Homo sapiens: one gene and its partners. The protein of the gene in region 2 purifies or fractionates together with the protein of the main gene of each other region. This does not show direct contact. Each region holds a gene or a part of one and is shown on either strand. Other genes may lie near its edges. The genes, in order: LEF1, RNF14 and GCN1.

What was found.
Region 1: the proteins of RNF14 (region 2) and LEF1 purify together in Homo sapiens (affinity purification with western blotting, with the first as the bait; one study listed by BioGRID). This does not show direct contact.
Region 3: the proteins of RNF14 (region 2) and GCN1 purify together in Homo sapiens (affinity purification with western blotting; one study listed by BioGRID). This does not show direct contact.

Annotation. Positions count from the first base shown.
Region 1 is NC_000004.12:108,088,802-108,092,455, reverse strand, and holds part of LEF1 (lymphoid enhancer-binding factor 1), read left to right. Parts: intron 1-3,198; coding exon 3,199-3,331; intron 3,332-3,654. UniProt on the Homo sapiens protein: Transcription factor that binds DNA in a sequence-specific manner. Participates in the Wnt signaling pathway. Activates transcription of target genes in the presence of CTNNB1 and EP300.
Region 2 is NC_000005.10:141,979,006-141,982,659, reverse strand, and holds part of RNF14 (E3 ubiquitin-protein ligase RNF14), read right to left. Parts: intron 2,538-3,654; coding exon 2,309-2,537; intron 1-2,308. UniProt on the Homo sapiens protein: E3 ubiquitin-protein ligase that plays a key role in the RNF14-RNF25 translation quality control pathway, a pathway that takes place when a ribosome has stalled during translation, and which promotes ubiquitination and degradation of translation factors on stalled ribosomes.
Region 3 is NC_000012.12:120,188,143-120,191,796, forward strand, and holds part of GCN1 (stalled ribosome sensor GCN1), read right to left. Parts: intron 2,259-3,654; coding exon 2,156-2,258; intron 1-2,155. UniProt on the Homo sapiens protein: Ribosome collision sensor that plays a key role in the RNF14-RNF25 translation quality control pathway, a pathway that takes place when a ribosome has stalled during translation, and which promotes ubiquitination and degradation of translation factors on stalled ribosomes.

The DNA of each region.
Region 1 (3,654 bases), on a different chromosome or scaffold from region 2:
GTGCCACATATCCGCAGTGTAAGTTGGAATCCACTTTGTTCTGTTTATATACATAGTGGAGATGGTTGGCAGGAAGCAAACCATAACCCTTGGAATTCTGCTCACACATGCTATTGAAATTTCATATTACTTTTATTATTTGGCCACAAAAATGGACATAATCCTTGTTGGCTTTAACACACCTACTAGTACTGCTTTCGCTATCCATCTTGCAAAATATAAGACAAGGCCAGGCTTAAATTAAAATCCTCGGCTTCTTATCTCTTTCCCACAGGAAAGCAAATCTGTGTTGAAAACCGTAAAATTAAGAGGAGAGCAAGGATAGCATAATTTAGCAAAAATTCATGGCACCAGATTCTGAGCTATATGACTGGAGGGATAGGTCAGACATTAAGAAGATGCTGCCTGCTAATGCAAGTTCCTTAAGGTGGTGCTCTGGAAAGAAAGAATATATCCAGAAGATTTCCACAGTGTTTACTCTTTATAAGTACCCTAAGAAAATATCTTTGTAGATTGTTTGGCAATTATGCTTATTTATGAGACTTTTAAAATGAAACTGAAAGCCATTATTCTAAAGTATATTTGAAATCTATCGATTTTAACATTTGGGCGTTGAGATTTGTGTTTCCATTTTCAAAAGAGTTCATAATAAACTCCTCCTATCCTCACATCTACCCACCCCCACTTCTAGCATTCTAAATTCCATGTATTTAAGAAGCTTATTCTGTTATTTGGAAAACTGTGTCATTAACACTCGAAAAGCATTAGAAGATTTGTTTAACCTTTTACACATTTATATGCATAGATGTTTGTGCTGAGGTGTGTAGAGAAAAATTGTGTGGCTATGATAATGGCACTCTATTTAATATACGCCAAAAAAGCTATATGAGCTATGCAAGTTTTGCCATTAAAGAAGAGCTGATAATTATAAAATAGGGAAAATCTAGTATGGAAATTATATCATTTTCCAAAAAAAGTGTGATTTTTTTTTCCTTTTTTTTCCCCCCCCCGTAAGTTTCTTTTGGATGGAGGTTGTAATGATAGGGTATAAGAAGAATTACTAATTTTTCTTATAAGATAGGGTATAAGAATTCTAATTTTTCTAAGGGGAGTCCTTCTCATTGGAGCCACATATTTTTTATGGCTAATTTGTAAAAAATATTAAGTTCAAAATTAGTGTATGTCGTAGGTACAGCCACCATACACAAGTGTGTTTTGGGGGCCCTCTTTAACCATTCAGATATGGACTTACATTTTAAGCAGTTCACATTGTGCAGTTTTAGGCACTTCCTCAAATTTTTAAAAAATATGAATATTTGCTTCAGGAGAAAACTGATTTCACATGCATTTTAGTCAATAATATAGTAAGATCTTACTAATTCAAACTAATTATGATGAAGACATGTCTGAACTAGTGAATTGAGCATAATGATATGCTCAATTTTCTCTTAAATTCATGTTACCCATTACTATAGTGTTTTTAAGTAGAGATTTTCCTGCAACTGCTTTAATTATTAGATTAGTTTAAAATCAGAAACAAACACCTTTAACAGGTATATAATTGTGTTGAGTCCCTTTTTCTTTGGTGAAGGGTTTATTGAGTCTCTTTAAAATGATTCCCCTAGAGAAGTTGTTAATGGGTATAAAAATACGGTTAGATAGAAGGAATAAGTTGTAGTATGTACAGTAGAGAAACTGTAGCTAACAATAGATTATTTAATAGCTAGAAGGGAAGAATTTTAATGTTCACAACACAAAGGAAAGATAATGTTTGAGGTGATGGATATCCCAGTTATCCTAACTTGATCATTCCACCTTTTATACAGGTATCAGAATATCACATATACCACAAAATTTCTACAGCTATGCCATATCAATAAAAAATAAATAATAAATAAATAAGTGATTTTACTAATTAGGTTAAACCTACTTAAGTCTTCTTTATATTTTTTAATTACTTAGTAAGCACTTTTGGGTTGGGGGGAACAACCTTAACTTTGTAACCAAAGTAATCACAGATTTCAAATTGATGAAGTCCAATTAGATAACTTGAATTAAAAAGTGTGACTGTTGACTTCCAAATTAAATAATAAAATGTCTGTAAACAAGTATAAGACATATAAAGTGTGTTAAAATATACAATTTTAACAATTAAAAATATTATTAAAGCAGTATTTCAGCTGGACACGGTGGCTCATGCCTATAATCCCAGCACTTTGGGAGGCCAAAGTGGGCAGATCACAAAGTCAGGAGTTCAAAACCAGCCTGGCCAATATAGTGAAACCCTGTCTTTACTAAAAATACAAAAAAAATTAGCTGAATGTGGTGGCGGGTGCCTGTAGTCCTACTTGGGAGGCTGAGGCAGGAGAATCACTTGAACCCGGAAGGTGGAGGTTGCAGTGAGCCAAGATCACACCACTGCACTCCAGCCTGGGCGACACAGTGAAACTCCATCTCAAAAAAAAAAGACAGTATTTCATATTATGCAGTTCAACTCAAGATTGGAAATTCCTTTTTATCAATTAATGTTTATGGAAACTAGAGAAGCAGAAGATGAACTGAGGAGGGCCAAAGCATAATGGCTAGTCTTGTTTGATTGACAAAGCTATAAAACTCGAAAGAATGGTGTACCATGGTTCTTAAAGATGTACAACATAGAGTTATGAACTCTGTAAGCTGAGGGGATATCAGTATAGGAAATTTATATTTATTGGGTTTAAAAATTTATCCTTTGAATTGGCAATATTTATTCATTTATTTGCTCATTGGACAGTTTTTTGCTTTTTGTGCCAGACATATGTAGTGAATACAAATGTTGTAAAACATTCATAAATTTTGCTGTAATTCGCTCTTTATTGACTTAACCTGAGGAAATAATCTAAAAGAGAGTATAAATATATATGTACAGAAATTCATGCCATATGGAAGAGTAGTGATCAACCTAAATCCCTGAAGAGTCACTGGTGAAATAACTGATAACTCATGAATATCAGTGACATATTCATATATTTGAGAAGTATTTACCATGGAAAAATTCAGAAAAATTCTAAAAGAGACATTTCCACCTGTCCAGGTCTGAAGGTGATTCTTGGGTTATGTTGATGACTGGTTACTGCTGCTGTGTGAATTTTTTTCTTTGGGAGAAAAGACTGGAGCTGGGCATCCATATTAACTATTGACCTTGTGGTTACTTTGCAGTCAAATAAAGTGCCCGTGGTGCAGCCATCCCATGCGGTCCATCCTCTCACCCCCCTCATCACTTACAGTGACGAGCACTTTTCTCCAGGATCACACCCGTCACACATCCCATCAGATGTCAACTCCAAACAAGGTGAGAGTCCCTGTCTTTCCAGGCCCTTTTTTTTTGCCAAATGAAGAGCCAAATCTCATCAGCCTGAGTGACCTTCCAGATGCCAGTGCTCCATGTCACTGGGTGGATCAGAATGTGTTTTTACAAGACAAGAGTAATTCATTTGATAGCAATTCTTTGGAAACACACAAGAATCTGTTACATTTATTATGCATTATTAAAAAGCAGAAGAAAAGCATAGCAGGGCCACAATGAATGAAAATCTTTCATTCACAATGTAAACCAATAGATTGTGCAAATATACTAAAAAGTCAGTACTCTACAATATTCATTTATTTCAGCAT
Region 2 (3,654 bases):
TCAATCTGGCTTCTACTGCTCTATCATTTAACTGAAATGGAACAGGTAACCAATCCCAAAGGTTTTACTTGCAGACAAAAGGCTTTTGTTCACAGTTGTATTACCTTAATTTTTCAATACAATTAATTAAAGAGTTTTCTCAACAATGTTCTAGTTATTTTATCAGTTTACTTTCCTCACATTATTTGGAAGTCTATCTCCCTTTTAAAGCAAAAGACATCTTCTGGTATAGAATCCTATATCCTATCTCCACTCTTTGCTTTCACCTGTGAATTCTTTCTCTGTGTAGTACATTCCCACAGCTTCATCACCTCTACTTCAATGTAGCAGTGAAGCAATGTAAATCTCATCCCTCTAATAATTCAATGCATTTTTGTGTTCCTAGGCATCTTAAGGACAAAGGTTATATTGCTTTAGTCTTCCCAAAATAATAAAATTGTATTTCATATTTTATATAATATATACATACAAAGAGAGGGAGAGATTCCTAATTTTGCTAAAGCCCTGAATCTATCTTCAATTTCTTCCCTGAATGCTGTGAAACACTTGAAATGTACTGTTGACTTTTAATGAAAAGGTTACAGAAGTCTAAAGTAAAGGCTTATATTATACATTGCTAAGTTCTCCATTCCATCTGGCCTTACCTTCTGCAAGGTGCTGCCTGAGGCAACTGAAATTATCTACCCACTCTTTCCTCTCATGGTACTTTCTTGGAAATAATGACAGTCTGCTAACATTAGCAAGTAATAACTACAATAATAATAGCATTAATAATTACTATTTTTCTTTTTCCTCTTTTTTTTTTTTTGAGACAGGGTCCCACTCTGTCCCCCAGGCTGGAGTGCAGTGGTGCAATCTGGCTCACTGCAGCCTCTACCTCCCAGTTTCAAGCGATCCTCCCGCCTCAGCAACCTGAGTGGCTGAGACTACAGATGTGCACCACCACACCTCGTTAATTTTTGTATTTTTTTGTAGACACGGGGTTTTGCCATAGTGTCAAACTCTTGGACTCAAGCAATCCGCCCACCTTGGCCTCCCAAAGTGCTGAGATTACAGAGGTGAGCCACTATGCCCAGCCCCATTCTGCATTTTACATGTATTAGCCCACTGTTTCTCAAACTATTTATGGTAAAGGCCCAGTTTATTTTTTCTCTGATACGTCAAAGATCAACACTTTTATAAGATATAACCAGGTTTGCTTGATTTAATTTTTTTAGAAGCAGAGTCTCACTACGTTGCCCAAGCTAGTCTCAACTGAGGCTCAAAAGATCCTCCTGCTGTAGCCTTCTGAATAGCTAGAACTACAGGTGTGCACCACCACAGTCAGCTAACAATCAATTATTAGAAAAATGAAAAAAAGTCTAAATTTTTATTAGATTTGACATAAAATTATGTGAAATCACTATAAAAGTTTCTAACCCTCTCAATTTCTATATATTATACACCAGTGTAACAAATATAACAATTTTGAATAGCATGATATTCGTTCCCTTCATCCTTAGAATAACCCCGTGAAGTTATTGTTATCTGCTCTAGCTGCAATTTTGTGAGGTAGCTGTTATCATTATCCCTGTTAGTCTGAAGAAGACTAAGCCACCAAAGTCCAATTAAATCGACGTTAAGGGCCTGATTTATGATTCCTTACGTAGACTGGAAACGGCAAACACATTTCACTCCTGTGTCTACTTCATCAGAGGGTAGCTTTCCGAAGTGCCATGTTGAGGAAGATTCTGAGGCCTCTCTGGGCTCAAGGAGAAAGCATTTGATGACTAGTCAAACACATGTGCCATGGAGACAAGAATGGCAGCTTAGATGCCCTGCATTGGCCATCCAGGATCTACATTATTCCATGTTTGTATATAGAATTTCCTGTGCCATTCCTTCTCCTGGAATGTTCCTCCCTGGTATCTGCACGGTTTTTCTTACCTCCTTCAAGTCCTTACTTAAACCATTTTGCCGGTGAGGCCTCCCCTGTTTTCCCTAACTAAAATCCCAAGTCCCCTCCCCTTCAGAACATTTCATATCCTGTCCTTGCTTTATTTCTTCTGCCTCTTCAGCACTTACCACCACCTAATATCCTTATTTTGTTTTCCTGTCTCCCCTGGTAGAATGTGAGTTCCATGAGGGCAGACATTTTGTCTCTTCTGGTCACTACTACAGCCCCAAGGCCTGAGATAGTCACTGACACAGAAATATCTGCTAAATGAATACTTCCAAATTGAAGAATGAAGTCATAAGGCCCTGGTAGTAGAGTGAAATGTGAGGGAGAGACTGGGGATGGGGGTTTGGGTTCACAGTTAAAACATACCTGCAGTCACCTTACATGGGGAGACCCCATGGTAGGTCAACCTGCACAAAGTACAGAAGGCAAAATTGCAGCTGGAGCAGATACCCATGGTGCAGCCAGGTTCCTGCATCACAGGCAGCTGGCAGCACGGCCGGGGGCAGTACACCACATCTGCCATCAGGTCCAAGGAGGACTGGAGGAGAAGGCGGTCATAACGGGCAAATAACTCTGCTTCCACTAACTCTTTGACCTGGAGGGAAATACAAAACACCATAGGTTTGATGATTCCACAACCAGTTCTGAACCTGAGGCGATTCTTAGGATGCTAGTGTAAACCAGATGGGCACATAAATTAAAACCTCTCTTTCACTTCAAAATCAAACCAAGTACATTTTGACTGAGATGACAATTATAGGGGTCTACACATTTGTTAAAACTAAGCAAAGTGTCCAATTTATTTTATATTTTAGTTTTATTTCTTTAGAGATGGGGTCTTACTCTGTCGTACAGACTGGAGTGCAGTGGTGCAATCATAGCTCACTGCAGCCTTGAACTCCTGGGCTCAAATGATTCTCTACCTCAGCTTCCCAAGTAGCTAGGGCAACAGGCACTTGCCATCATGCCTGATTTTTTTTTTTTAAGACATGGAGTCATGCTATTTTGCACAGGCTGGTTTTAAACCCCTAGCCTCAAGCGATCCTCCTATCTTGGCCTCCCAAAGTGCTGGGATTATAGGTGTAAGCTACCATGCTAGCCTTGTATGATTTAAATGTGTAGTTTATTTTAAGTAAAATTATGCTTTAATAAGAAAACAAAAAACTGGCCAGGAGCAGTGGCTCACGCCTGTAATCCCAACACTTTGGGAGGCCAAAGCGGGAGGATCACTTGAGGTCAGGAGTTCAAGACCAGCCTGGCCAACGTGGTGAAACCCCGTCTCTACTAAAAATACAAAAAAAATTAGCCGGGCATGGTGGCGGGTGCCTGTAATCCCAGCTACTTGGGAGGCTGAGGCAGGAAATCACTTGAACCTTGGAGGCAGAGGTTGCCGTGAGCTGAGATCATGCCCCTGCACTCCATCCTGGGTGACACAGCAAGACTCCATCTCAAACAAAACAACAACAACAACAACAACAACAACACCACCACCACCTAAGTAGGCTGTACTTCTGCTGAAGTCTATAAAAAAGTTGGTTAATCATTCTAAGAGACGTCCCCTTCAGATGCCAACCTCACACAAGAATAAGCTAGTGATTCCCCAAGGTTTATGGGATCCTACTAGCAGATATACAAAGTAAATTATCACAATTACTTAATAACTACTTTAACACTCATCCTTGCCCACTGCAAGGCCAAAGGAAGCATTCCAT
Region 3 (3,654 bases), on a different chromosome or scaffold from region 2:
TGACCTCTAGGCTGGGCATGGTGGCTGACGCCTGTAATCCCAGCACTTTGGGAGGCCAAGGCAGGCGGATAACCTGAGATCAGGAGTTCAAGACCAGACTGGCCAACATGGTGAAACCCCATCTCTACTAAAAATACAAATATTAGCTGGGCGTGGTAGCAGGTGCCTGTAATCCCAGCTACTTGGGAGGCTGAGGCAGGAGAATCACTTGAACCCGGGAGGCGGAGGTTGCAGTGAGCAGAGGTCGCGCCACAGCACTCCAGCCTGGGTGACAGAGGGAGACTCTGTCTCACCAAAGAAAAAAAAAAAAAAAAAACCTCTCCCAACTTATTTGATCTTGGAATCCTTTATTGGCCAATCACCTACTACCATGGTGCTGACTTCCACGGAACACAGATTGGGAAAAATGATATCCCAAGTCATAAAAAAAATGTTTTTGGCTGGGCGCGGTGGCTCACACCTGTAATTCCAGCACTTTGGGAGGATCACAAGGTCAGGAGATCGAGACCATCCTGGCTAACACGGTGAAACCCTGTCTCTACTAAATATACAAAAAATTAGACAGGTGTGGTGGTGGGCACCTGTAGTCCCAGCTACTCCAGAGGCTGAGGCAGAAGAATGATATGAACCCGGGAAGCAGAGCGTGCAGTGAGCTGAGATCATGCCACTGCACTCCAGCCTGGGCAACACAGTGAGACTCCGTCTCAAAAAAAAAAAAAAAAGTTTTTGTACTCTGTATACTACTTGAGAAAGGTTTTAGCTATCTTTTTTAAATATTTCCAAACAAAATGGTTAAAAGTGTAAATAGCTTTCACACCTGAATGGATAAACTCTCCATGAACCCAAAAGTTTTAACTGTTGCAATTCACACTATAGCAAGGAAATAAAGTAAAGGCAGAAGTTGTGCAGGGAGGGGGGAAGAAGGCCATGGTTCCTTTTTTATTTGAGACGGAGTCTTGCTCTGTCGCCCAGGCTGGAGTGCAGTAGCACGATCTCAGCTCACTGCAACCTCCACTGCCTCCCAGGTTGAAGCGATTCTCCTGCCTCAGCCTCCTGAGTAGCTAGGATTACAGGCGTGCGTCACCATGCTCAGCTAATTTTTGTGTTTTCAGTAGAGACAGGGTTTCACCATGTTGGTCAGGCTGGTCTCGAACTCCTGACCTCGTGATCCACTCGCCTCGGCCTCCCAAACTGTTGGGATTACAGGCGTGAGCCACCACACCCAGGCTTTTTTTTTTTTTTTTGAGTCTCACTCTGTTGCCCAGGCTAGAGTGCAGTGGCATAATCTCGGCTCACTGCAACCTCCACCTCCCAGGTTCAAGCAATTCTCCTGCCTCAGCCTCCCTAGTAGCTGGGATTACAGGTGCACACCACCACACCTGGCTAATTTTTGTACTTTTTTTTTTAATAGAGACGGGGTTTCACCATGTTGGCCAGGATGGTCTCAAACTCCTGACCTTGTGATCTGTTGACCTCAGCCTCCCAAAGTGCTGGGATTACAGGCGTGAGCCACCGTGCCTGGCCAAGGCCATGGTTCTAAAGAAAGGCAATTTCAGCTGGGCCCAGTGGCTCGTGCCTGTAACCCCGGCATTTTGAGAGGCTGAGGCAGGCGGATCACTTAAGATCAGGAGTTCAGGACCAGCCTGGCCAACATGGTGAAACCCCATCTCTACTAAAAACACGAAAATTAGCTGGGTGTGGTGGCGCACACCTGTAATCCCAGCTACTGGAGAGGCTAAGGCATGAGAATCGCCTGAACCCAGCGAGGCAGAGGTTGTAGTGAGCCGAGAGCGTGCCACTGCACTCCAGCCTGGGTGACATCGTGAGACTCTGTCTCAAAAAGAAGAAAAAAACACAAAAAAAACCACAAAATTTATTTTTGATATGGAACACTGTCATTCGAGAAACCCCATCTCTACTAAAAATACAAAAATTAGGCAGGCATGATATGGGCACCTGTAATCCCAGCTACTCGGGAGGCTGAGGGCAGGAAAATCGCTTGAACCCAGGAGGTGGAGGTTGCAATGAGCTGAGATCGTGCCATTGCACTTCAGCCAGGGCAACAGTGAGAGACTCTGTCTCAAAAAAAAAAAAAAAAAAGAAAGAAAGAAAAACAATGAATATTGTCCAGGGTATGTGGATGAAAAATAAATACCTTTTCCAGCAACACACTTCCCAAGTTCACTGAGGATTTCTCTCCGTTCCTTTACACTGGCTGTTGTCACCTTCCCTGCAAAACGCTTTAGTGTCTCGGAAACCTGTGAAGGCCAAGCAACAGAAAAATTCACTAGTCAGACTATAAAACTATGAGTGTGTGTGTTGAGGGGTGGGTGTAGAATTTGGGGATCTCTCTAACCTGGGGTTTCTCAACCTCCCCACTGGTGACATTTTGCACCGGGTAATTCTGGTTGTGGGGGCCGTGTTTTTAGCAGCATTCCAGGTCTCTACCCACTCGATGTCAGTAGCAGCCCACCTTCCCCACCCGCCCCAGTTGTGACATTGTCAAATGTCTCCTGGCAGGCAAAATCACTCCCACTTGAGATGTACTGCTTTAATTCAACTAGTCAACAAATCAATATACCTTATTTAAACTTTGGCAATAAGAGGAAAGGCAAAGACCTCTGAAAAGAAAATATCCCTTCAGAACTACCCAAAATCTAGCAAGGGCCTGGTACGTGCCAACTATGTTCCCTTTACATTATCTCACTTTAACCTCCCCATAAAGGGAATGTCAGCATCCTGGCAACTCACTGGCAGAGGATAAGCACACTGGCTAAAGGGGGAAAGGTTAGGAGATTGGATCCCAGCTCTGCCTTTTACTAGCTGTAGAAACTTAGTCAAATAATGTCACTCCCCCAATCTTCAGTTTTCTCATCTATAAGATGCGGACAATAGCAGCTACCTCATATGACTGTTATGGAGCTTAAATGAGATTGCGTATAAGGTGCATCTACTCTCATCCCAAGCAAAAAGTTGGCTACTACTACCAAAAAGCCTGCAAGGGAGGCATCAGTATCCCCATTTTATAGGCGATGAAGAAACCATCTCCAAGAGAGGAAGTCACTGCTCAGAGTGGGGTCGAGAGCCACAGCACCTGCGTTTTTGAAACTAACTTTGAAACCAAACAGGTCTATAAACTGATGCTAACAAATCTTTAGCTTTCAACAGCCATCGAGTTACCACAGCTGCAGTCCCCTGCATAGGGACATAAGCATAAGACCCAGTGATGGGGGGCAGTTTGCAAACATCCCTGAAAATCTGCTCTTGAGCAATATTCTACAAGCTACCAAGTGGACAGGTTGTGGATTCATAAGCCGTAGAGCAGGGCATGATAAGGCTCATGTAACTTAACACAGTGGGGTTATCATGTTTTTCTTTTGAGGGTATTTCAAAGGCAGGCCTTATCAGTAGCGTAAGAGTCAAGCGTACACACAGAAATAAAATAATGCTGAGTTTTTCGTGCTTAAATCCCTGCCATAATTCTATTGGCAATGAATAAAAGAAACTGATGTCCAAAACTGTCTTCTACATAAATAATGTAGTTTTAACTTTAAAATGTCTTTTGTTTTTATAGTCATAGATGCACACAGAGTCAAAACCAAAGAGTTCTGAGAAGTCTGCCATAAAAACCAGTCCCTTGCCCTCACTCTCCAT